7 linked regions of the Homo sapiens genome follow. The protein of the gene in region 3 interacts with the protein of the main gene of each other region in a biochemical or structural test. Each region holds a gene or a part of one and is shown on either strand. Other genes may lie near its edges. The genes, in order: MPDZ, PDZRN3, GHRHR, RHPN1, DLG1, TJP1 and PARD3.

What was found.
Region 1: the proteins of GHRHR (region 3) and MPDZ interact in a test that uses a peptide from one of them, tested with the Homo sapiens proteins (one large-scale study listed by IntAct).
Region 2: the proteins of GHRHR (region 3) and PDZRN3 interact in a test that uses a peptide from one of them, tested with the Homo sapiens proteins (one large-scale study listed by IntAct).
Region 4: the proteins of GHRHR (region 3) and RHPN1 interact in a test that uses a peptide from one of them, tested with the Homo sapiens proteins (one large-scale study listed by IntAct).
Region 5: the proteins of GHRHR (region 3) and DLG1 interact in a test that uses a peptide from one of them, tested with the Homo sapiens proteins (one large-scale study listed by IntAct).
Region 6: the proteins of GHRHR (region 3) and TJP1 interact in a test that uses a peptide from one of them, tested with the Homo sapiens proteins (one large-scale study listed by IntAct).
Region 7: the proteins of GHRHR (region 3) and PARD3 interact in a test that uses a peptide from one of them, tested with the Homo sapiens proteins (one large-scale study listed by IntAct).

What each region holds. Positions count from the first base shown.
Region 1 is NC_000009.12:13,108,693-13,112,192, forward strand, and holds part of MPDZ (multiple PDZ domain protein), read right to left. Parts: intron 3,455-3,500; coding exon 3,332-3,454; intron 2,049-3,331; coding exon 1,944-2,048; intron 1,373-1,943; coding exon 1,260-1,372; intron 368-1,259; coding exon 244-367; intron 1-243. UniProt on the Homo sapiens protein: Member of the NMDAR signaling complex that may play a role in control of AMPAR potentiation and synaptic plasticity in excitatory synapses. Promotes clustering of HT2RC at the cell surface.
Region 2 is NC_000003.12:73,397,942-73,401,441, forward strand, and holds part of PDZRN3 (E3 ubiquitin-protein ligase PDZRN3), read right to left. Parts: intron 3,069-3,500; coding exon 2,981-3,068; intron 1-2,980. UniProt on the Homo sapiens protein: E3 ubiquitin-protein ligase. Plays an important role in regulating the surface level of MUSK on myotubes. Mediates the ubiquitination of MUSK, promoting its endocytosis and lysosomal degradation. Might contribute to terminal myogenic differentiation.
Region 3 is NC_000007.14:30,973,953-30,976,990, reverse strand, and holds part of GHRHR (growth hormone-releasing hormone receptor precursor), read right to left. Parts: intron 3,007-3,038; coding exon 2,853-3,006; intron 2,563-2,852; coding exon 2,502-2,562; intron 2,021-2,501; coding exon 1,951-2,020; intron 1,215-1,950; coding exon 1,123-1,214; intron 563-1,122; coding exon 433-562; intron 1-432.
Region 4 is NC_000008.11:143,375,376-143,378,875, reverse strand, and holds part of RHPN1 (rhophilin-1), read right to left. Parts: intron 3,324-3,500; coding exon 3,208-3,323; intron 2,352-3,207; coding exon 2,223-2,351; intron 1,497-2,222; coding exon 1,421-1,496; intron 608-1,420; coding exon 530-607; intron 181-529; coding exon 56-180; intron 1-55. UniProt on the Homo sapiens protein: Has no enzymatic activity. May serve as a target for Rho, and interact with some cytoskeletal component upon Rho binding or relay a Rho signal to other molecules.
Region 5 is NC_000003.12:197,047,113-197,050,612, forward strand, and holds part of DLG1 (disks large homolog 1), read right to left. Parts: intron 1-3,500. UniProt on the Homo sapiens protein: Essential multidomain scaffolding protein required for normal development. Recruits channels, receptors and signaling molecules to discrete plasma membrane domains in polarized cells.
Region 6 is NC_000015.10:29,707,469-29,710,968, forward strand, and holds part of TJP1 (tight junction protein 1), read right to left. Parts: coding exon 3,363-3,500; intron 1,569-3,362; coding exon 1,091-1,568; intron 1-1,090. UniProt on the Homo sapiens protein: TJP1, TJP2, and TJP3 are closely related scaffolding proteins that link tight junction (TJ) transmembrane proteins such as claudins, junctional adhesion molecules, and occludin to the actin cytoskeleton.
Region 7 is NC_000010.11:34,357,297-34,360,796, forward strand, and holds part of PARD3 (partitioning defective 3 homolog), read right to left. Parts: intron 2,964-3,500; coding exon 2,775-2,963; intron 2,022-2,774; coding exon 1,851-2,021; intron 1-1,850. UniProt on the Homo sapiens protein: Adapter protein involved in asymmetrical cell division and cell polarization processes. Seems to play a central role in the formation of epithelial tight junctions. Targets the phosphatase PTEN to cell junctions.

The sequences.
Region 1 (3,500 bases), on a different chromosome or scaffold from region 3:
ATTTTTATGTATATTGTTGAGTTTCCATGGAGTTTCAATTTGAGCCTATTTTCCTTTAAATATAATGAAACCTCAAATTGGACAAAAATATTTAATGACCTGTTCCTGTAGGGAGTTTTGAAAAGAAATGATCAACTGTTAACCATTTGGCATTACCTCAGGCCATAAACTAATAAGCCAGCTGCTGACCACTATTAATGAATGTTTAGGGGAAAAGAGGGTGGTTAAAATTTGCAAGCTTACCTTTGCAAACACTGTTTTAACATAAATGGGTAAGTCTCCATGAGGGCTGCCATATCCTCCAACTATACTGAAGCCTAAGCCATCTGGTCCTCGCTCTAGTGTAATAGACTTACATTGAGGAGGTCTACGGTGAAGGAAAGGAAAAAGAGGTTTTAAATTAAAAAAAAAAAACTATACATATATGTTATGAATTATCTGACATCCACCTAGAGCTAGCATAATTCTCTTTGTTACTGACAAGGAGTATATTACGGGTATTTTTGAGATGCTTAAATTGTCAGTGCATGCTGTGCTTGGTATTTTAAATTTACATAATCTAATGAAATCCTACTTAACACCCTAATTCTATTACTCATTTACAGTTCCCTTAAACTAACATATTCATGGCATGTTCTCATTGTACAGAGAAGCTCATTCTTTTTCCAGTTTATTTAAAGTGAGAGGGCTAAAGTTCAGGGGACTATATTAGAATAAGTCATAAACATCAGTACGCCCAAGCTCAGAGAGAAAAATCAATTATAAGCAATGGAAAAGCTGCATCAAATTATTTAAAATTTCTAATGCGCCTCTCTCTTCTCCTCTGTTTTCCAATGCTTTTGTATCCAAGTATTGTTACTTAATACTGTGAATTTTTTCAGTCCAAATGATAATATATTAGATGAATAGGCAGTGCGGGAAATTTTAAAATGATAGATTTGACTTGCTCCATATTACATGAAGTGGTAACATCAAGACTAAAATGTCCTCCGCCCCAAAATCAGAGCTGAAACCATGGGAAGGGTAGTAGCACGCATATCTATCTAGCTAGTTATCTATCTCTACTTATCTTTGATCAGCTAAATCCATGCCACAATTATTTAAGTTTAGAAGCACCTGATATGTATAATTCACACTTCATATATCCTATCATTTTACCTGTACGTAATTCCTAGAAACATGGGACAGAGAACGCAACTGTCAGGAAGACTTGATTCATAAGTGAAAAATGATACACTAATCATCATGTATGAACTCACCCTAAATCATCCTGAAATATACTGCTTGACGTCAGCCCAGTGAAAGAAAGACTGGAACTTGCAGGCTCCTGCTGATGACCTGTGACCACACTCACGTCTCCTCCAGCAACCACCTGCGCACAGGAGGAGGATAAACAGAAAAAACACATGTTCCTGTGGCTAGGGAAAGTAATTTTTCTTCAGAAAGAGCACTTGGATTAAAATGTATATTTTATTGTTCATTTAAACATTTCTGTTAACATAAAATACAACCAAAGAGAATGAAATTTCACAAGGTCCAGAGGCTCTTAACTGTCCTGACAGTAAACATATTCTTCTAATTCTATTCTACAAAGTTCTTTGATGTTTTTAAAATGTGGTCTCATATGTAATTACTTTTTAAAGATCTTTAGAATATAAGCCACTTGCTAGCACCACTTAAAATTCCAGCAAATAATCATGTACTGCTAAGGCCTGGATTTTTTTCCCCTTAAAGTATAAAACAATCAATGCATCAGAGTAAAATGTTACAAAATATGTCTCATATGCACTTTATTGGAACTCTTAATTTAATCATTTATGTTCAAGAGAAATATTAAATAAAATAATAGCAGAAGATTTAATCATTTTTACTGCTTTAACATCAAAGCTCATGTGTCTTCAGGCTACCTATATTCTGAATTATGCTTGGGATAAAAATCTTACCTGCATTTCAATGGAGCCAGATGCATTTTTCAGTAGGTTAACTGCTTGGGTGTGAGTCATGCCCTCAGTGGATGTGCCACAGATGGTGACAATCCTATCCCCAACCTGCAAGGGAGAGAAAGAAACAGCCATCTGCTAAAGCAGCCATGGAGAGTGGGTCTTTGAGACCTAAGTATTCATTTCCTTCTCCACCTTCCACATGACATATATACTGCTACCAGCCACTGAAATATAACCAAGGAAACCACTAATTCCAAGAAGTCCAAAAAGCAGCAACCACAAAAAGAAGCAGTGCATAATGGTTGAGTTCCATATCCAGGGGAGAGGGAGGGAGAAGGAGAAAGTCACTCTTCCCTGCTCTTCATTTCTCTTGGGTGAGACATTACTTCCTATTAAAAGAAAAAAAAATTCACTATCATTTGGAAACTGAAATTTCTCTGGACATTACTATTATAATCATTAGATGTGACTCTAAGTCGGAGGTTGGCAAACTAAGGCCCAGAGGCCAAATTTGGCCCACTGCCTGTTTTGGTTAATAAAGTCTGGTTGGAAGACAGCCATGCTTATTTGGCTGCTTTCACAGCGCAGAGTTGAGTAGTTGCAACAGAGACTCACAGGTCCCACAAAGCCTAAAATATTCAGTATCTGTCCTTCCAGAAGTTTACTGACCCTGTGCTATGTATACAATCAGGTTTTAAGTGTCAGCCATAAATTTGGATATCAAACGAGGCTGAACCATTCCCAGCCTAAAGACTATTTAAACTAAAATGTGGTTATGTTCTGAGACCTATTTGAGGTATGAAACCATAGAGATTTTGCTTTAGAGAGACTGAGTTGCGTTAATGGAATATTCATGTAATTTTTAGAGCTGGGCAGTTGGCATAAATTCCATTGCAATGCTCCACAATTTGGATAATCCCTCAGCTTTGAGGCAAGTTGCATATAGTTTTATAACATTGTAAGTCATATTTATATTAAACTTCTGCAAAATTATCAGTGAATGCAAATAAGTAATACTTTTCAATTTAACAGAGTTAAATCGGCGTTTAAACCAATCAAATATATAAGATAAAAATTTCACTTCATACTGGTGTTCTGAAAATACTTTCTGTTCTCTTTTAGCTTGTTCCACAGAATTTCAACATATAAAAATATGTATTAGGAAACAACTATAAATCTTCCTATTTAACTGCAAATCTGCATTTTCTCCTTTCTTTTAATATTCTTTATCTTTTATTCCAAGCAAGCCTTGCTGTGGTTGGATTAGATGATTTAAAAGTAAATATAGATATTTAAAACTGCCTTGCAACAGGTAGCCAGGTTCAAAGGTTTATAAAAACACTTCTGCACATTTTGCTAGGGCTTCTAGGGTTGATAGTACGACTCACTCTGAGTTTTTGGGTCTGTGCTGCAACTCCAGTTGGGTGCATCATTGCAATAAATATAGGCACATCACCAAGTGGGCTGCCTACTCCTCCAGCGATGCTGATTCCCAGTGAGTCAGTAGGGCCCTGCCATGGAACAGATATAAAATTTTGGTCAAAGTGATATTTTTCA
Region 2 (3,500 bases), on a different chromosome or scaffold from region 3:
TAATGGTCCTAATGGCTTGTGAGCTCCTTAAGGGCAGGCAGAGTGGTGACTTCGTGATTTTGCATTTCTAGGGCCAAACAGTATATTTAATGTAAGAGACAATAAAATGAACAGAATTGAAAATAAACACGAATATAAAGTCTGATGGCATCCAAGGTCTAGCTTAAAATATTAATACCAGACTAGTTTTCTAAACACCTGCGTTGTGTCTGCTTTTATTCATGAAAAGAGAGAAGCAGTCTTAGGAACACAGTGTCACATGCCTACGAGGGGCTCAGTCGTTCCTAGGCCCTGATAATGTTACACTGCAGGGACAGTGTGGACAATATTCGTGACTTGGCGGCACATCTCGACACTGCAGTGAATGAAAGGCACCACAAAAGCCTCGCTGGTGTGACTCAAGAGAACAAGAGGAAATGATAGCTTGGGCTGCTTTATCTGGGTCTGTGGCCTGTAGGTCAGGGGTCCTCTGGCTTTAATGGGCACCGAGGTACCTAGGAACCTTGTTAAAGTGCAGATTCTGATTCTGAAGATCTAGGGGGCCAAGTTTCTGTAGTTCCCACATCTCCTAGGTGAGAACTCTACTTTGACCAGCCAGGCTGCTGGTCCTCCTACCACACTTTGAACAACAGGGTTCTAGGGAACAGTTTCTGAGTGGCTCCCTCCTGCTGAAAGCAGGATGCTCTCAGGTGCTTCATGCTTTGAGGAGAAAGACTCAGTCTGGGCTAGTCTTAACACTTCTTTAATACTAGCTAATCTCCTTAGAGAAAAGGCAGGATGTAGTGGCCCCAGGCTCCCAACCCTCAGCAGGCACCCTTATTGAGCACCAGGATTTAATAAATAACACTGGCTTGTGTCCACTGTATTTAATTGTATGGGATTTTCTATTTAAGGCAATGGATGCTGACTTTCTGCTTGACGCAGTGGTATAGTGTTTCCTTTAAAATAAAATTACCGTAGTTTAAATAAGTTGAGTCGAATTAAAGAGAAATAGAAAGCACGTAAGAGTTCTGGTGATAGTCAGGTATAAGGAAAAACTGTAAGGCAGAATGGCCCAAATTGGGCAGATACTGTGGGGGCTCAGTGAATCTCCTGAAACCATATGCAAGCTCTCACAGACAGGAGCATTTTTCCAGAGCGGGGGGCTGTAGGTTCCATCAGATTCTCAAAGGTATTAGAAACTAAAAAAAGAACTAAAGAACCCACTGCTACAAAGTCAAGTTTAACTAAATACCAAAGACTACAAAGTCTCTACTACTTCATAACTCTAGCTTCTGAAACACTTTACAGCTTTTTAAAAGAACTCTACTTTGCCACAATTACATCATCAAAAAGCAGTGTCGTCCCATAAAGATTACGAAATAGCCCTCTGTTTGGAGAGCAGTGTTTCTCCAACAGTGTTCCAGAGAACTGTAGACTGAGGAAATATAAACAGGTACTTGGCCAGAGAGGTGGGGGAAATTCTGCCCACTCCCCCAGGGGATTCTAGGTAGATAGTCAAGATTCTCAGAAGTCCTCCAAGAAATCTGTTTCGTTGTCTTCAGTCTGGCATTTCCCAAATGTATTTCATTATGAACCCCCTTTGGAAGGAACATACATAACAAATTAAGGAACAAGTGTCCTGAAGGAGTCACGGCTGCTTCACCAAACAGCCCTGAAGCTGGGGTGATAGGACACTAAATAAGAGGCAGAATCCTGATTTTTGAAAATGACAAAACTACATTTTCTGGAACAATTGTTAAATGGCAAGCGCTTTGGTAAGTGGCTGACAGCAAGCAGAAACAGTCAAGTTTTTATAGTGAGAATACTGGCCATTGCTGTTTAGACCAGGTGCATTTAGGGAAAATTTTAAATTTCTGAAAACTGGCACAGAGTCAGTCATGCCACTGGCAACAAGTCCTTTGATTTGACTGTATCTGGCTAACCATCAGTGAAGTCATCGTTTGCACACAATTATTGATTTTTAACTTCTGTCTTGGAATGAGAACTCTTGGTAACTTTAAGTTGAGGAACATAGCTGTTTTCTACTATTTGACTGCTTCTGTCCTTGCACAGAACCTACTGCCACTGAACAATTCAACTTCAGAAGTATTGGTAGGACAGCATAGATTACACAACAGTTAGCCATGAAATTGGATAAAATGTTCGATTTTTCCTGGGTGACCTTTTGATGGTACCCAAGGGCTTACCTGTCAACATCAGGTGTCTTTTTACCTTATTCCATAAAATCAGCTTTCAAAAATGCTGTTATATTTTTTGAAACCCCATTGAAATATAAAAGTGTTTTCCCCAAAATATAAATATATTATACAAGTTAGTGTTTTCTGTATTTTCTATCACCCTTAATAAAAGGAAAATGGGAAGTAGAACTCTGTTGGCAACCTGGTGTCCTCTAAATATTTTAAACCTTAACAGAGACCTATTTGACATTATGTAGCATCTTGAATCTTTATTCCTGTGTGGCCTCAAATAACACTTAAGAAGAGTTGCAGACTTGTTTAATTTCTTCTGTATCAATGTTAGCAAACTTGAAGCAAGTGAAGCAGTGAACAAACCCTTTTGTTAGGGCGGGCTAGCATTCACTCAAGTAATTTATCCACCTACTCTTGAGCCATCTGCCTTTGAGTAAAGAGTGGTGATGACATAAAAGGGAGGAAGGTGAGGAGGCTTATGTTAGTTACAAGAATGTATGGATTATGTGGATTCAAAGGTTGACAACAGGATTTACTGTCCTAACTTTTAAGTGATTCAAATTAAAAAAAGTTTACATTTCTGCTTTTGGGACTTGATTATTAAGCTCTGTTTCCAAGGAAGGAAGAAGAATCTCAGTTGTGCCTTTCAAAGGGCATCAGTAAAAGTGGTTCTGCTTTTGTTACTTTCCATCGGCATCCGTAAACTAATTTATGCTTATAGAGAACTTATTAGGCATTCTGTGTTCTTAATAATGACTCCTAAAATGAGACAAGGATGTTCTTCATACCTCCAGCTCCAGCTCCTCCCTGTCCATCTCCTGATGGATGTCTCCAATGTAGTCATTTGGATCGTAGTATTCATGGGCTGAGGGATGCCTGAAAAGAGATGCAACATCTTTACAGCCCTTCTTCCGTTGTCAGTATCTGTTTTTCTTACACCCATTGTCAGGCCAGTGGCACAGTAGCAATTCCCAGGGTGTGGGCCCTTTCATGACTCACTTCCCTCTGGATGGGGCTCTCAGCACGGTCAGGACCTCCATCATCCTAATTTTACCATTTGCCTTTAGTACATTTCCTCCTGAAGGACTTAAGATGCAAAGTGCAAGCCTGATGGGCTTTGTTGTTTGCAGAGCCCATCCCGGAGCCTGCCAGTCACGTGATTCAGCGTGACTGATTTCTAACTCCATCTCTACGCAGGAAACAGGACAATATTTTACTGCTTATTGCTTCATTGTTAGATTTTATCTCTGCAGAGAACTAGGCTCGAGCCCAGGCAACAGTCTAAGATATGTGCTGGCCTCTGAGATC
Region 3 (3,038 bases):
AGTTGAATAGATTGGATGGATGGGTGGATGGATGGATAGATGGATGGATAGATGAGTGGGTGGGTGGATGGATGTATAGATGGGTGGGTGGGTGGATGAATGGGTGGGTGGATGGGTGGGTGGGTAGGTGGTTAGGTGAGTGGATGGATGGATGGATGGATGGGTTGGTGGGTGGGTAGATGGATGTATGGATGGATGGATGGATGCACGGATGGATGGATGGATGCATGGATGGATGGATGGATGGAAGAATGCATGGGTAGTTGAATACGTAGATGGGTGGCTGGAAGATGGACAGACAGACAGATATTTGAATAGATGGATGAAAAACATAGCCCTCACCCTGTCATGAACTCAGCCAAGGCCCGTGGGCAACAGCACCTCCCTCCAGCACCCTCAATGGAAAGAAAGAGTGCCTGTGGGGGCCCTCACCTGGAAGGAACCCAGTCCCAGCTCCAGGGGGAGGCGGATGCCCAGGCCAGCATTGTCTGGCAGGAAGTTGAAGATGATGTAGTGAATTCCAAAGAGTGGGATCAGGAAAAGTGTCGACTTGGAGAGACGCCTGCAGGAAAGACAAATCCTAGGCTCCCAAGACTGGGATTAGAAACTGTCGTGTGCACTTCATCTCCTCTCACTTCCTACCACCTCCCTATATCCACTCTGTGGAACAGCCACCTTGGGAAACGCCACCTCCCCACAATCACTCTGGGCTTTTTTATTTCTGGGCGCTGGATCCTGCTGATTCCCCTACCAACTGTTATTGCCCCAGTTTATCCCAAAGTCTATGCATCTTTCAAAGTGTGGATCAAAACCACTTCCTCCAGGAAGTCTTCCTTGACCACACCACCCTTCAACTAGAAAGGATCCCTCTCCCCAGGCTCCCATAGAAATTGATCCCAGCACTCATCGTTCTATTTGGCATGGGAGCTGGCTGTTTGGAGTCCTCATCCTTCCAATATTGTGATCCCCTAGAAGGAAGGGGCCAGGTCTATTCTGTCTCTGGGAACATAGGGAAGAAAGAGTATGGGGCTGAGGTCATGAGTGCTTATTGGATGAGACAGACACATTGAATCCCCCTCCAGTTACCCTTTCCCAGTATCCCCAGACACAAACACACAGTACCAATACTGAGACTGGGTATGGAGGCTGCCCTGAGCTGGCTCCAGTTTCCTCACCAGGATGCGGATAATATTGAGAAAAAGCCCAAAGTTCACCTGGAAATAGAGGCATAGGAAGGTGGAAGACAAGGGTCAGGGGGTAGCCTTGGGTGGCTGGGGTGAGCCCCAGCCCATTTGGGGACTAGAAAATTTAAATCCTTGAGACGTGAGAATGTGCAGGTGAATGAATGCACAGATCATTGCTCCAGAACTGGTAGCCTGGAGATGGGGGGGCGGGGGTCCCACATTTGAGCATTGGACAGAGAAGGACCAAGTCCTGGGATCAAGGGGGGCGATCAGGCCTTGCCACCTGCCTCCAGCCACCTCCCAGGCTCTTCTCTAGCACAAAGCAGATGTCCCTCACTTTGCACAGTTGCTAAGTTGCAAAACATTTGTACATTTACCAAAGCCATGCAAAGCAGTCTTCACTGCCTCTGTGTTGTGTGTGAGAGCAGAGGGAGGAGAGGGGTTTAGCTGCAGACTCCATTTACTGCCCCCACCCGGCACCCCTAGTCTCTCACTGTGGTGGTAAATGATCTGCAACCAGCACATTAGGCTCATCAAAATTGAGCTGGAACAGCCTGCATGCTGATGGAGACCACCACCCCTCTAGTTTTACCAATGGGATACTGAGGCCCAGAGAGGGCCTCACAGAGAATCAGTGGCAGAGCAAGGCTGGAGCCCAGTTTTCAAGACACCCAGCCTGGAGTTGCATTTCCTGCTGTGCACAGCCCGTCAGTAGTTCCAGGGAAGTTGACTGAATAAAGCAAAGGGCACTGGCCCAGGGACTGACCCCGACCGAGAGGACAATGGGCCCTTTGATGATCCACCAGTAGGGGGAGGTGTCGTCCAGGTCCCAGCACCTGGGGAGAGAGGAAAGAAGGCCGTTGTTGGAAAGTCCCCTTCACTGTGGTGACGCAGGCACCTCCCTCTCAGGCATTCATGCCTTCTGGTCTCACCCACCTCCCCTCCAGCCTTTTCTCCTGTCTCAGCCAGTTAAGGTCTCACCCAAAGGGGCACCCCAATCCAGGCTGGGCTCACCCTTTCTATCCACCTAGATGGACAAACGTTTCTGAACTCTGTTCAATGCCTCCTTGCTGGCCCCCTGGCAGCTCCCTCACCCCACCTTCCCCCAGCCCCACAGCCCTGGGAATCTGAGCTCCACTCTCCTGCCTGGCTCATGCCCCTTCTGTGCTACTCACAGACTGTTCTCCCACCCCCCATCCTAGCCGGGCAGTCCCTTCTCCTCCTCTTCCCAGCCTGGAGAACAGCCCATGGCCTGACTGTCCACTCCACACCCCATGTAGGACCAGCGGGTATGACAAGGTGGCCGCTCCGACTCACGCGATGTCCTCGAAGGCCAGTTTGCAGCTCACCCACGTGCCAGTGAAGAGCACGGGCAGCCCTACAGGAGTACAGGGAAGACACAAGCGAGGGAGTCTGCATCCTTGACTCTGAGATCTGGCGCCACCTCCCACCACCACCATCAGCCACGTAGGGCACTGCAAAGGCAGGGCCAGGCAGGACCCCAGAGCCAGGGCCCTGGTCCCACCCTCCAACACTTGCTGCCGGACTGTGGCCTGTCCCTCTCCTTCTCTGGGCCTCAGAGTGAGGTGGAGGGGCCTTTATGTAAACTCCCTGGGCCTTTCCAGCCCTTTACCTCCCCATGGTGCCCAACCCGCCCTCAGTGCTCACCCCAGCCAGCGAGAACCAGCCACCAGAAGGCTCTCCTTGAGCTGGGGGAGGTGGAGGCCAGGAGGCAGTTCAGGTAGACGGCTTCTGCCAACAGCCAGCTGAAGTTGGTCATGGTGGCGAAATGGGAGGCGGCCACAGAGACCTTGCATAGAACCTGGGGGCCAGGACCTGGGTGCTTCAGAGCTG
Region 4 (3,500 bases), on a different chromosome or scaffold from region 3:
GTTCCCGCAGCTGGGCCTCCCCTCCCCAGGGTGCCTCCGCCCGCAGAGCCCCTACCAGTGGAAGAAGAGCCCGAGGCTCCTGGCAGGGGTGAGGAAGCGCGCATCCAGGAAGCACAGCTGGTTGTAATAGGCTGTGAGCAGCTCCAGGCCCGACTCATTCCGGCTGGGGGTCCGCATGGCCTGCAGGGCAGGAGCCACTGGGCCCCACCGCCCTGGCCCACCCCACTCACACACACTGCCCTGGGAAGTCCCATGGGCACCAGCACCATGGGGGGCGGGGAGGCAAAGCCAGTGGGGCCCTGGGCAGCCGTGACTCCCGAAGGCCAGCAGCATGCGGCACCGGAGCCACCTGGGAGCCCCTCCACGCCCCCTGGCTGGGTCTGGACACACAGGGCCCCTGGTGCGCCCGTCTCCCCACGTCCTCGAGATGTCTACGCTGAGCTCCTCTGTCTGTTCCTGACTTCAGCTTCAGCCTCCGCATGTGTCTCCCAGGGCTGCAGGAGGGTGGGTGGGCGGGGGAACCACACACCTGCCGCAGGGCCTCCAGCTCCCTGATTTCTGCCTCGTAGGAGGCGCCGTCCTCTCCAAAGTGCACTGAGATCAGCTCCTGATGGGGGGCAGGTGTTGGCATCCACAGTACCCCTGTGCCTGGCCTCCTTCCCTGAGGTCTCCCAACCCACCTTGGGAAAAGACTCATGGTGGAGGGAGGGTCTGTGCCGCAGAGCAGGCTGGCTGCCATGCAGCGTGGGGGCCCTGGGCCCCTCAGTGGAAGCCCCAGAGAAGGGCTGGGGGCCAATGTGTATGGAGGGGCCTGGTGGGTTGATGCGGGTCGGAGCCCCTGTGGCCCTGGGGTTTCCCCACCCCATCACAGAAGCGGGGCCTGGAGACTCAGCGCTACTTTTACGTGCGTTTCCTTATTCATCCCCGTGGCCGGGAGGCAGGTGCCATCTGCCACTCAGTGACTCGGACACGGAACACAGTCAGTGGCTCCCGTGGGGCCCTGCCAGGCAGTGCCAGTCTGTTCTAGCTCTCCCCAGGACCCTCGTGAGCCAGTGCTGGGTGTGTGGCCCCAAGCCAGTGGTGCCCTCCATGGGCGAGCCTGTACCCTGTGCTCCGGCTGGGGCTTCCAGGCCCCATCCTCCTAGGGCATTGCCCATCCGAGGGTAGGGCACATGTTCACACCCACTCTATGGGATCAGCCCCGGCCTGGGGCGCAGGCACCAGCGGGGCCCTGAACGCAGCAGAGGCTGGGTCCCTGTGGCCATTTCTGCCAGGTCCCTTGCGTCCCTTTTAAGCCTCCCTCCCTCTGGGCCTCAGTTTCCCTATCTGTTCAACCAGACAGCTGGACCAGAAAGCCTCCAAGACCCCCTTGGTCCCAGGGCAGGGCCGTGTATCTCAGAGCTTGGAGGCCAGTACCTACCTTCAGCGGTGTAGACCAGTCCAGCTCCTTGGTCTCCTTCAGGCCCAGGGGGATCATGGGGACAGTGACAGCTTCGCTGTAACCAGAAGCATCGACTTCAGACTGTAAGGCCAAACCCTGCTGCCCACGGCAGCCCGGGGTCCACTCCTAGGGCTCTGTGGCACAGGGTGCCTCCCTCCCTCATGGGTGTGCACGTGCGCCTGTGTCCTGGGGGGCATCCTTGCACCTGTGCACCACCCCCCACCGTCCTAAACCGCCCCAAAAGCAAACACACACACACAGAGACACACACATGCGCGCGCACACACACACACAAACACATGCGTGCATACACATGCAGACACACATGCGCACGCACACACATATATGCACACACGTGCAGACACACACACGCGCACACACAGACACACACAGACACACGTGCATACACGCACACATAGAGGCAAACACACACCCACATACACGCAGACATGCACACGCACGCAGACACGTGCACACAGACACACGCACAGAGATGCACACACAGACACATGCAGACACACAGACACACGCGCACACAGACGCATGCACACACATGCACACACATATACACACAGAGACACACGCACACACACAGAGATGCACAGACACATGCACACAGACACACGCGCACAGACATGCATGCACACACATGCACACACGCACACACACAGACAATGCACACATATACACACAGAGACACACATGCGTGCACACACATGCACACACACACGCACACGTGCACACACATACACGCACGTGCTGTCCCGGCCCCCACCCGCACCTCCCATGCCGGCCAGGGTCCACGCCACCGCTGAGCTCCTCCAGCTCCTCCTTCAGCAGCTGCAGGTTGGAGTTGACGTAGCTCAGCTCCAGGGCGACCGTCTCTCTCACCCGGTTGTTGCTGGTGGCTCTGAGGGAGGCCGCGGCAGTTGAAAGCCCAGCCCCAAGGCAGAGCCAAAGGCCCCGTGCCCACTGCAGCCGTCCTGCCAGCTGACCTGTCAAAGCTCCAAGCCCACCCTGCAGAGGACGTCGCTGACAGGGTCTGCCCCCCATGGGTGGGGCAGGGGCAGCAGTGGGATCCGGGGGCTCACAGGTGATGCCCCCTACAGTTCATCACCCCGACCCCAGCACCTGCATGTTCCGACTCTGGCCTGGGGGCACCTCCCTCAGCACCACGGCTTTCTTTGGGGCTCATACAGCCCTCGACAGCACTCAAACATCACTCCTTGGATGGTGGGTGAGAGCCACACACCTCTCTGTGCCTGCATCAGGGCCTGGCAAAGGGACCGGAGGTCCCCAGGGAAGGCCAGGATGGGGGCAGGGAGGTAGCAGGTGCTAAGGGGACCGAGGGGCACTCACACGCACATGTGTGGCACACAGGCGGTGTGCTCTAAGGAAGAGGCAGCCCAGGTCTTCCACCCCCTCCCAGGTCCCCAACCTTGGGACGCGCCATCACCTGCCACAGCTCAGCCTCAACCATGCCTCTTCTGAGAAGCCCCCACGTGCACTGTTGGGGCTTCCCAAGCTGCACACCCGGCAGGGACACTGGTTTCCTGGCACCTCCAGCCCAGCACAGAGGCCCACGGAGGCAGGTCTGTGAGGGTCATGGCTGAGCATCACGTGTACTACGTGCCCACCAGGACCCAGCTGCTCATGCACCTGTCTCTGTGACCCGGCCATGGGGCAGACATCTGCCTGCGTGGCTGTCCTGCCCCCCTCACCCAGGTGGGCCCTGCTCCCGGGGCCGGGCAGTCTCAAGCACTGACCTGTAGAGGTTCTCAGCGCCCGTCCGCATCTGCAGCTCCTTGTCAATCTGCTGGTGAATCTGGGCCCTGCGGCTCTGCAGCTGGCCGCACTGGATCTGCGTCAGGGAGTCACAGCCCTGCAGGGAGGCCACAGGCGATCACAGCCCGACCCCGTGGCGCCCGCACCAGGCTGCGCCTCGCCAGCCACTGAGAGGAGTGCATCCTGCCCATGGGTAACGGGATGGTCACCATGCGCTGGGGCTGGAGCTGGCCTCACAGGGAGGGGCTGGACAGAACTAGTGTGAACACAGGCC
Region 5 (3,500 bases), on a different chromosome or scaffold from region 3:
GATTAGAAGAATAGTGAAATACTAATAAGATCTATAGTTAGATGAGACATATAATTATTAAATTTCCTGATTTTGATAATAAAACTATGATTCTATAAGGGAATATCCCTGTTTTTTAGAAAATACACACTGAAATATTTAGAAGTAAAGGGACATCTACCTGAAACTTACTCTCAAGTGTATCAGAAAAAAACCTATAAATGTGGTAAAATGTTAACACTTGAGGAATTTGGGTGAAGGGTACATGAAACTCCCTGTACTATTCTTGTAACTTCTATTTAAGTCTGAAATTAGTTTGAAAAAAATAAGAAAGCACAAGGTTTAAAAACCATGACCCTTACTGATACTCAGTGTGAATGTCAAATTTAGGCTGATATTATTTCAAACAAACAAGTAACAACAACAAAAATGTCCAAAGACTTGAGGAGGAAGTTAAAGGACAAGGCGAGTAAAATAAGAATATTGGGGAGTTGCTACCTACTTTTTTTTTTTTTAAACAAATAGTATTTCAAAACGGATCAAAGGGCAACTAATCATTAAAAAGGGGCCAAGACTACACAATAGGGAAAGGCTAGTGTCTTAAATAAATGGTGCTGGAAAATCTGGATATCCACATGCAAGAGAACGAAACTAAACCCTTATCTTATACAAAATTAACTTGAAATAGACTAAAGACTTAAATGTAAAACCAGAACCATAAAACTCCTAGAAGAAAACACAGGGAAAAAAGCGCCTTCACACTGGTCTTGGATGATTTTTTGGAAAGCACAGGCAGCAAAATAAAAAATCATCAAGTGGGATATTAAATAAAAAATCTACACAGCAAAGGAACAATCAACAAAATGAAAAGGCAACCTATGGAAGAGGAGAAAATATTTCCAAACATGCAATTGGTAAGGGGTTAATATCCAAAATATATAAGAAAATCATTAGCAAAATACCAAATAATCCATTTAAAAAATGGGCAAAGGACTGGAATCGACATTTTTCCAAAGAAGACATACAGATGGCCAGCAGGTATCAGTAAAAGTGCTCAACCTCATTAATCAGAGCAACAGAAACCAAAACCATAATGAGGCTGGGTGCAGTGGCTCACGCCTGCCATCCTAACACTTTGGGAGGCTGAGACGGGCAGATCACTTGAGGCCAGGAGTTTGAGACCAGTCTGACCAACATGGCAAAACCCTGTCTCTACTAAAAATACAAAAATTAGCCGGGTGTGGTGGCATGTGCCTGTAATCCCAGCTATTCAGGAGGCTGAGGCATGAGAATCGCTTGAACCCAGGAGGCAGAGGTTGCAGTGAGCTGAGATCATGCCACTGTACTCCAGCCTGGGTGACAGAGCAAGACTCTGTCACAAACACACACGCAAACCATAATGAAATATCACCTTAGACCTGTGTGGATGGCTGTTATCAAAAAGATAAGAGATAACAAGTAGGCAATGGTATGAAGAAAAGGGAACCCTGTACACTGTTGGTGGGAATGTAAATGAGTAAAGCCATCACAGAAAATAGTGTGGACATTCCTCAAGAAATTATTATTACTATTATTATTTTTGAGACAGAGTTTCACTCTTGTTGCCCAGGCTGGAGTGCAATTGTGCGATCTTGGCTCACTGCAACCTCCGCTTCCCAGGTTCAAGCAATTCTCCTGCCTCAACCTTCCAAGTAGTTGGGATTACAGGCATGCACCACCACGCCCGGCTAATTTTGTATTTTTAGTAGAGAAAAGGGGTTTCGCCATGTTGGTCAGGCTGGTCTCGGACTCCTGACCTCAGGGGACCTGCCCACCTGGGCCTCCAAAAATGCTGGGATTACAGGCATGAACCACTGTGCCCAGCCACCTCAAAAAATTAAAAACTGAGTTATTATATGATCTAGCAATCCCACTACTCGATATATATACAAAGGAAAGGAAATTGGGCCAGGCGTGGTGGCTCACACCTGTAATTCCAGCACTCTGGGAGGCTGAAGCAGGCGGATCACTTGAGGTCAGGAGTTTGAGACCAGCACGGCCAACCCTGTAACCCTGTCTCTACTAAAAATACAAAAATTAGCTGGGTGTGGTGGCATGTGCCTCTAGTCCCTGCTACTTGGGAGGCTAAGGCAGGAGAATCAACAGAACCCAGGAGGCGATGGTTGCAGCAAGCTGAGATCACACCCGCATTCCAGCCTGGACAACAGAGTGAGACTCTGTCTCAAAACAAAACAATAAAAAACAAAAAGCCAACAACAACAAAAAGAAAACCAAAGGAAAATAAATCAGTATGTTGAAATCTGCACTCCTATGTTCACTGCAACATAATCAACAATAGCCCAGATATGAAAATCACCTAAGAGTCTGTCAAAAGATGAATGAGCCGGGCCCGATGGCTCACGCCTGTAGTCCCGGCACTTTGGGAGGCCAAGGCGGGCGGATCACCTGAGGTCAAGAGTTCGACTAGCCTGACCAACATGGGGAAACCCCATCTCTACTAAAAATACAAAATTAGCTGGGCATGGTGGCACATGCCTGTAATCCCAGCTACTCAGGAGGCTGAGGCAGGAGAATCGCTTGAACCCGGGAGGTTGTGGTGAGCTGAGATCATGCCATTGCACTCCAGCCTGGGCAGCAAGAGCAAAACTCCATCTCCAAAAACAAAAAAGATGAATGAATAAAGAGAATATTGTAGGCCAGGTGCAGTGCACCTATAATCCAAGCACTCTGGGAGGCCGAGGAAGAACGATTGCTTGAGCCTAGGAGTTTGAGACCAGCCTAGGCAACATAGCGAGACCCTGTCTCTACAAAAATAAAAAATTAGCCAGGTGTGGTGTTGCACGCCTGTAGTCCCAGCTACTAAGGAAGCTGAAGAGAGAGAATTGCTTGAGCCCAGGAGGTTGAGGCTGCAGTGAGCCATGATCATGACACTGTACTCCAGCCTGGGCAAGAACAAAACCCTGCCTCAAAAACAAACAAACAAAACCAAAAACAGGCCGGGCACGGTGGCTCACGCCTGTAATCCCAGCAATTTGGGAGGCCGAGTCGGGTGGATCACGAGGTCAGGAGATCAAGACCGTCCTGGCTAACATGGTGAAACCCCATCTCTACTAAAAATACAAAAAATTAGCTGGGCGTGGTGGCAGCTGCCTGTAGTCCCAGCTACTCGGGAGGCTGAGGCAGGAGAATGGCGTGAACACGGAAGGCGGAGGTTGCAGTGAGCCGAGATTGCGCCACTGCACTCCAGCCTGGGCGACAGAGCCAGACTCCATTTCAAAAAAAAACAACAACAAAAAAAACCCCCAAAAAAACCCAACAACAAACAACAACAAATATATATATATATGTATGTATGTATGCATGCATATGGTATATATACAACAATGGAATATTTTATTAGGCCATAAAAATGAAAATCCTATCATCTGCAACAACCAACATGAGTGAATGTGGAGGACCTTATGCTATATGAAATAAGCCAGACACAGAAAAGCAAATACTGTATTTCATTTATACGTGGA
Region 6 (3,500 bases), on a different chromosome or scaffold from region 3:
TGCAGAGCTAGGAAGGCAGTGACCGCCATAACCATCCTTTCTCTTGGAAAGCAGACTCAGGTGGCCATCCTGACCTTTGGTTCTCCCTGCCTGCAAGTGCTTCTGCTTTATGGTGGCGTGAAAATGGAACTGGCTGTAGGAGGCTGAGATGAGCTTTTATGTATGGCCAGAATCCATCTGGTCAATCGCCGTGGAATGAAAGACAGGAAAGAGGAGCTGCAGGGAGGCTCCAGGTGGGCTCACTTTGTCTCATTTGCTCAGCCATCTCACTAACTGCTGCTCTTTAAACAGTCAGAGGTTATTCTATTTTTCTTCTTAGCATCATTGTGGAACAAATAATGAATGAGGAACATAGATACTTAATGTTTTTAGATGTCCTCCACATGCACCTTACCAGTAGGTCAGGAGGTTACAAAAGGTCATGGCTGGTTAAGAGTATGGGCTCCTGGCTGGGTGCAGTGGCTCACGCCTGTAATCCTAACACTTTGGGAGGTGGAGGCGGATGGATCACTTGAGATCAGAAGTTCAAAACCAGTCTGGCCAACATGGTGAAAACCTCTACTAAAAATACAAAAAATTTAGCCAGGCGTGGTGGCACACACCTGTAGTCCCAGCTACTTAGGAGGCTGAGGCAGGAGAATTGCCTGAACCCAGGGGGTGGAGGTTGCAGTGAACCAAGATCGCACCACTGCACTCCAGCCTGGGCGACAGAGGGAGACTCTTGTCTCAAAAAAAAAAAAAAAAAAAAGCATGGGCTCAGAGGTCGGATGACCAGCAGCTAAATTGAGGCTCACCTCACTCTAGCTGTGACCCTGGGCAAACTGCTTACTGTCACTCAACCTCAGTTCTTAGTAAAACAGGGATGATGACAATACCTACCAACCATACACGACTGTTAGCTTTATTATTTTACCAACATCTTGTACCTCCTGGAGGACCTTCTATGTAACAGCATTCATTGCAACAACACTCTTCAGTTTAAAGGTTGAGTTAAAAAGATCACTTTAAAGTCCCAAGTCAAATAAACTACAACAAACTCACATGAGAAAAATCACAGGGCCAATGCTTTGAGCAAAGGCATAAGTCTTACCTCACAGGAATAGCTTTAGGCACTGTGCTGATATTATTTATTTGATATTTAGGCTTCTCTGCATGGATAGAGAAAGTTTCAACTCCACTGTCAAACTCAGGAGGCTGTGCCAAACTGTGCGATTTCACAAGAGTTTTTGGAGAAGTGGGAGTTTTTGAAGACAAGTCAGGTTTATGTGCAGTTTCACTTGGCAGAAGATTGTGATTGAATTTAGGACTTTCAAACTTGCGTTCAAATGGTCGGGCAGAACTTGTATATGGTTTTGGTGTGAATCGATTGTATGCTGGAGTGACTGTTTTCTGAGTCTGTTCAGTTCCATTAACTGGGGCTTTATCTGGAAAACTTTTCTGGGGATAGAAAGCTGCCTGAGCAGTATCTTCTCGGTTTGGTGGTCTGAAAGTTGCTGGCTTATTCTGAGATGGAGGTGGGTCTGGTTTGGACACTAAGGAATTCTGAAAATCCAATGACACTGAATTACCTGAAAAACAAACGTAAGCATTTAAATAACTTTCTGAAAAAAGTTATAATAGCCCTGTCCCAGCTTAACTTGTCCTGGTGCTGGAGTCGAGGCCCAAATGTGGGTCGCACAGCCAGAGCCTGACTCTTGAGCCCTGGAGGCTAGGTGTGATGCTGAGGGATGAGGGCAGCATGGACAGGTGGTGCCATGAATATATATACCCTGCTGCCCTGGAGTCAGGGTCCAGCTGCTAAGATTCCTGGCCTCCAAAGATTGGCACTAGTCTTTGTGAAAACTAGAATGCCCAATAATCATATAATAAGGATACTCACTATTAATTAGAAAAATGTAAAACAAAACCAACAAAAAGCATTAAATACTATTTCACACCCACTAGAATGGAAAAACCGAAAAGTCTGATGATGCCAAACATTGGTTAAAAAGTGGAACCACAGGATTTTTTATGCACTGCCAGCCACAGTGTAACACAGTACCAACTGAACTCTGTGAAATAATTAAGGACACTACAAGACAGGAGAATTATTAATCCAAATACCTCATGAATATAGTAATATAATTTTCCACAGTACGAGAAGAAAAATCATATGGTCATCTTAATACATGCAGGAAAAACATCTGACTGCTTTCAGCAAACTCTGAATATAGGGAATGTCTTAAACATGATAAAGGACATCTACGAAAATCCTAGAGCTAACATTCTAAAGGATAAAACATGAGGTCCTTCCTCCTTAAAATCAGGAACTAGCAAAAGAGGTCCAATTTCACCACTTACATTTCAGAGTTTATTGGAGGTCCTGGCCAGTGCAATCAGCAAGAAAAGAAAGAAGGCTAGGTGCGGTGGCTCATGCCTGTAATCCCAGCACTCTTGAGAGGCCGAGGTGGGCGGATCACCTGAGGTCAGGAGTTCGTGACCAGCCTGGCTAACATGATGAAACCCTGTCTCTACAAAAAATACAAAAATTAGCCGGGCGTGGTGGTGTGCGCCTATAGTCCCAGCTACTCAGGAGGCTGAGGCAGGAGAATCACCTGAACCCGAGAGGCAGAGGTTGCAGTGAGCTGAGACTGCGCCACTGCACTGTAGCCTGGGCGAGAGCAAGGCTTCGTCTCAAAAAGAGGAAAAAAAAAAAGAGAAAAGGCATAAGGACTGGAAAGTAAGAATTAAAACTGTCTTTATCTGTAAACATGGGCATGTGTGAAAAAAAATCTTAATAAAAGATAGCCTCAATCCAGAACTATAACACATCTGCTTGAAGACTCACAAGCCCAAGGAGGTGCCTCCTAAGGGAATAATAAGAGAAGTCTGTGCTAGGAAAATGCCTGTCCACAGCAGAAGAGATAACCACTTTGTGTTATATGCTGAGGGTAAAATGTTACAAAGCTCTTAAGATGAATAATCTGGAGCTATATGTGATCTACCTGGTATGTAAATGCAAAAGTCAAGGTGTATGGGATACATTTTATATGAAACATTATGGCTTTTCTATTTGGGTGTGTGAGATAAAACATAGTAGGTTTTACAAACCATCTTTACATATACTGGCAAACACTACTTCCAGAAGATTTAGAGACTAGCATAAAATAGATTAAAATCTGTTTAGCTAAAAGGCTTGTCCAAAATAATGGTCTTGTAAAAACAGGAGACATACTTTTAACAAAATTCTTAGTTTTTACTGTTCCCAGCCCAAAGGTTTCAAGCATGTATTTTTTAATGTAAAAACCATTTTGCCTAGAAACCACCAGAATTTTACTTCATAAGCATTACTGTGTTAAAATGTCTACTTCCGAACTTCCTACCTTCACCATGTGCTCCCTTAGAATGTATGTGGAGAGACGCGCTGGTGACAGGCTGAGATGGCTGGGCATACTGCGAGGGCAATGGAGGAGGAGGGGGAGTGGCCTGGATGGGTTCATAGCGTTTCTCGCCAAATGATC
Region 7 (3,500 bases), on a different chromosome or scaffold from region 3:
TTAATTGGTCTCTAAAAGACTAAGGTGATACGTTGTCCAGTAGAATGCATGCCATCTGTCTTATTCACTGCTATGTCCTCAGGATCTAACACATTTTCTGATACACATAAGATGCTCAATAAATATCTGTGGAATGAAAACTGTCCTGTGTAATGGGAAAGTATTCAGGTGGCCAAAATAAAAAGGCCTAAAAGAGAATGATATGTTTTGTAAACTTACAGTTGAGATGTTTTCATATAGTGCTTTGTGGGACTTAAGTTAAAAGATCAGCTAATGATTTTGCAATGAGTAAAAACTACTATTCAATCAGTCCAGGAGGGACGGAAAAGAGAAAAAAATATCAGTCCAGCATCCTACTGTGAGGGATTAGCTTTTATATTTATCTTACATAAATGAATGTTTGTATGTCCCACTCTTCTCCACTCTGAGATTTTTTAGTTAAGGTTATGTTGTTCTCTTGATATCGCAATTAATTTGTTGATTACTGTTAACTCATTCTACATTTGGCAAATAAAAACAACAAAATAATTCAGTGGTCAGTGATCTTTCAGAATACGTCACCTCTATATTGACTACCAACTGAGCTCGAGAGTATATTTTCTCTGTAAAATATGCTTGTATCATAGGTTCAGATGAGTGGTCACTGCAACCTGAAAACGGTGCTTTATGTGTTTATTAAACAGAAGTTTAAAAATTAAGAAAAACTCTTAAACAACTTAGGTATAATTTTCAGTTTGTATTATTTGCTAATCATTTTATCTTAGTTGATTTGATCTTAAAATGTGGGAATCTGAACATTGATTTAAGAAAAACTTCACATTTTCAACAGCTCATTTTGCACATGGGCAAGTCTGACCTATTTTCTACAGTTGGCACATAATTTATAATGGATCCATGAAATTTAGCTTTTTTCAAGCTCCAATATTATCAAGGCAACATATAATTTATTTTTAACTTTCAAATGTCCTATTATACAACAAAGTATGTTTTTCCATATTTGGGAAAATAGATGATCCTACCTTTCAAGAGAGGATGCCCTGTGTCCTCCTCACCCCTAATTCCAAACTGCAACATACATTTAGAACAAGCAGAGTATAATACAATACAGATCACTGAAAAAGGAGGCATTCTAAGAGAACAGACTCAATCCCATAGAGAAAGAGAAAATGGGGACTGAGGAAAGAGAGGGAGGTATATGCTATTGATAATCTCACAAGAGAACACCATCATCTAAGAAAGCCAGACTGTGGGCCAGGTGCTATGGCGCGTGCCTGTAATCCCAGGACTTTGGCAGACTGAGGCAGGAGAATCCCTTGAGCCCAGAAGATGGAGGCTGCAGCGAGCTGTGACCACAACACTGAACTCCAGCATGGTCAACACAGTGAGATCCTGTCTCAAATAAAAAAGAAAGGACAGGGAAGGAAAGACTGTTCCCTACTAGGGGCTTTGTAAGAGGCATCCCATTTTAAATAAATGAATAAGCAACTGTTTCTCTGCATGATTCACCTCCCAGGTATAACTCTGCCAACTAGAAGAGAAACTGTTGGCTCTGAGAAGGAAGATGTGACCCTGATTTCAAGAAAAAATTCAGCTAAAGGGGCTTTTGAGATCCCAGTGTTTCCTGCTGAGTTGGCAATAGGAGTATTAATGTCCACTTAGGAATATGTTGATCACAAGAATTAAGAACACAAACCACAATCCACCTACAAAATAATAAAACTACAATAAGCAAAGATAATTTATGGTCTTTTGATGTAAGGTCCTGGAACCTAATACCCTTTGCCCAAAATTAGGACAGAAATGTAGTTTATTTACAATTTTAGATACTAGCACTTTTTTGCATTTCTTACCTCATTGCACTTGCTTATTCTCCTTGCAACAATAAGCTGGATCATTCCTCGTTTATTGCCTTCAGTAGACATAGACCTTCTTAGGGTTTCCATGGCATCTTGGTTTGTCTTGCCCAACAGGGATTCTCCATTTACTGCTATCAGTTGATCATTCACCCGAAGCCTTCCATCCTGGGAAGAAAACAGGTAAAAATAAGTGCTATTAAACAGACTGCTATAAAAGAAGTAGCTTTTCCTTTAGTTAATAAATAAAATAAAAACAAAGCAAAAAAAAAAAAAGTGGGGAGCTTTAATCCTAATGGATTATGCCCAATTGAACGCTGGCATAATAACGTCTAAGCAGCTATTGTAGCCTGTGTCTATTTCAATCATTTATACATTTGTAAATCAAGTCATTATCATAATCTGTTTACCAAAATAGCATACTAATTCAAAGGACACAAAGTGATTACTTTCTTGCTTCCAGAAACACCCATAGAGGTTATTTAGAAACCAAGACATGTAAAAGCTCAAGGCTATTAGACAGTTGCAGAGAACTGTCCCCTTAACAAATGGCCAGGAAATTTTCTCTAGGCTGAGAAATAGAGTAAGTGACCCACAAACAGGGGAGGGGAGGGGAAAGATTAACGTCTACTATACGCCCATTCTGTGACAGGACCTATGCCAAGTCTTTGCATTGATTAACTTCATTTAACTAGCATGTCAATGGGTTGTATGTTCTGTGAGAGAAAAAATGAAAGGTTGAAGTTATGGACTCCATCCCCACGTGACACATCACTGATACACCTAGTTGTTTAAATGTGAATGTGGGTACCATAAAGAAATGAGAAAACTTCTGTTAACTGTATATGTTTCCAAAATAGGAACAGGGTTGAAATTAAAATTTTTGTTAATAGGCATACGCATGATAAAGTTGACACTCACTTTAGATGCTGCTCCTCCATTAATAATGGACTTGACAAAGATTCCCAAATCTGCGTGGTTCTCTTTTGACCGGTTACCTTTGACACTGACACCAAGGCCTGCAGATCCTGAATCATTAAGTGGGACTTCAAATGTCAGAAATTCCCTGGTGCCATCAGGTGTAAGAACAATATCCTCATCTTCTGCTTTCTAATAGGGAACAAAATTGCACAGCACATTATAGTCCAATGTTTCTTTCTCAAAGTTATTTTTAAAGACTGCTAATGAGCAGTTCCTTAATCATAAGAGGCAAAATATTTCCATGAAGGTTCCACAGCAAGATCCATGAAAACACTACATCTGCACCCACTCCAGAAGATTCTTGGAACCAGCTGTTAATATTTTTATGTAGCAATTATTCAATATTGAACCAAACTTAAATCAGATTTGAGAAAGATAGAGGGAAAATGTAGTGGAAGGACTAAAGACTAGTAGATTTCTAGAGTTCGGGATTTTTTTGGTGTAATCATATATTCTAAACGACAAGAAAAACAGTAACAATGGGAGTAAAAATAAATAAATATAATTCATTTATCTCCCTTTTTATGAGGAAATTCTGAAGTTATCAATATATTTAATGTTCACTAATGGTGTTTATTCACAAAAAATAACAAATCCTGATCATACAAAATCAGCAGAAAAAGGTATATGGGTTCAGAGAGCCTCTAAAGAATTCTAACATCAACA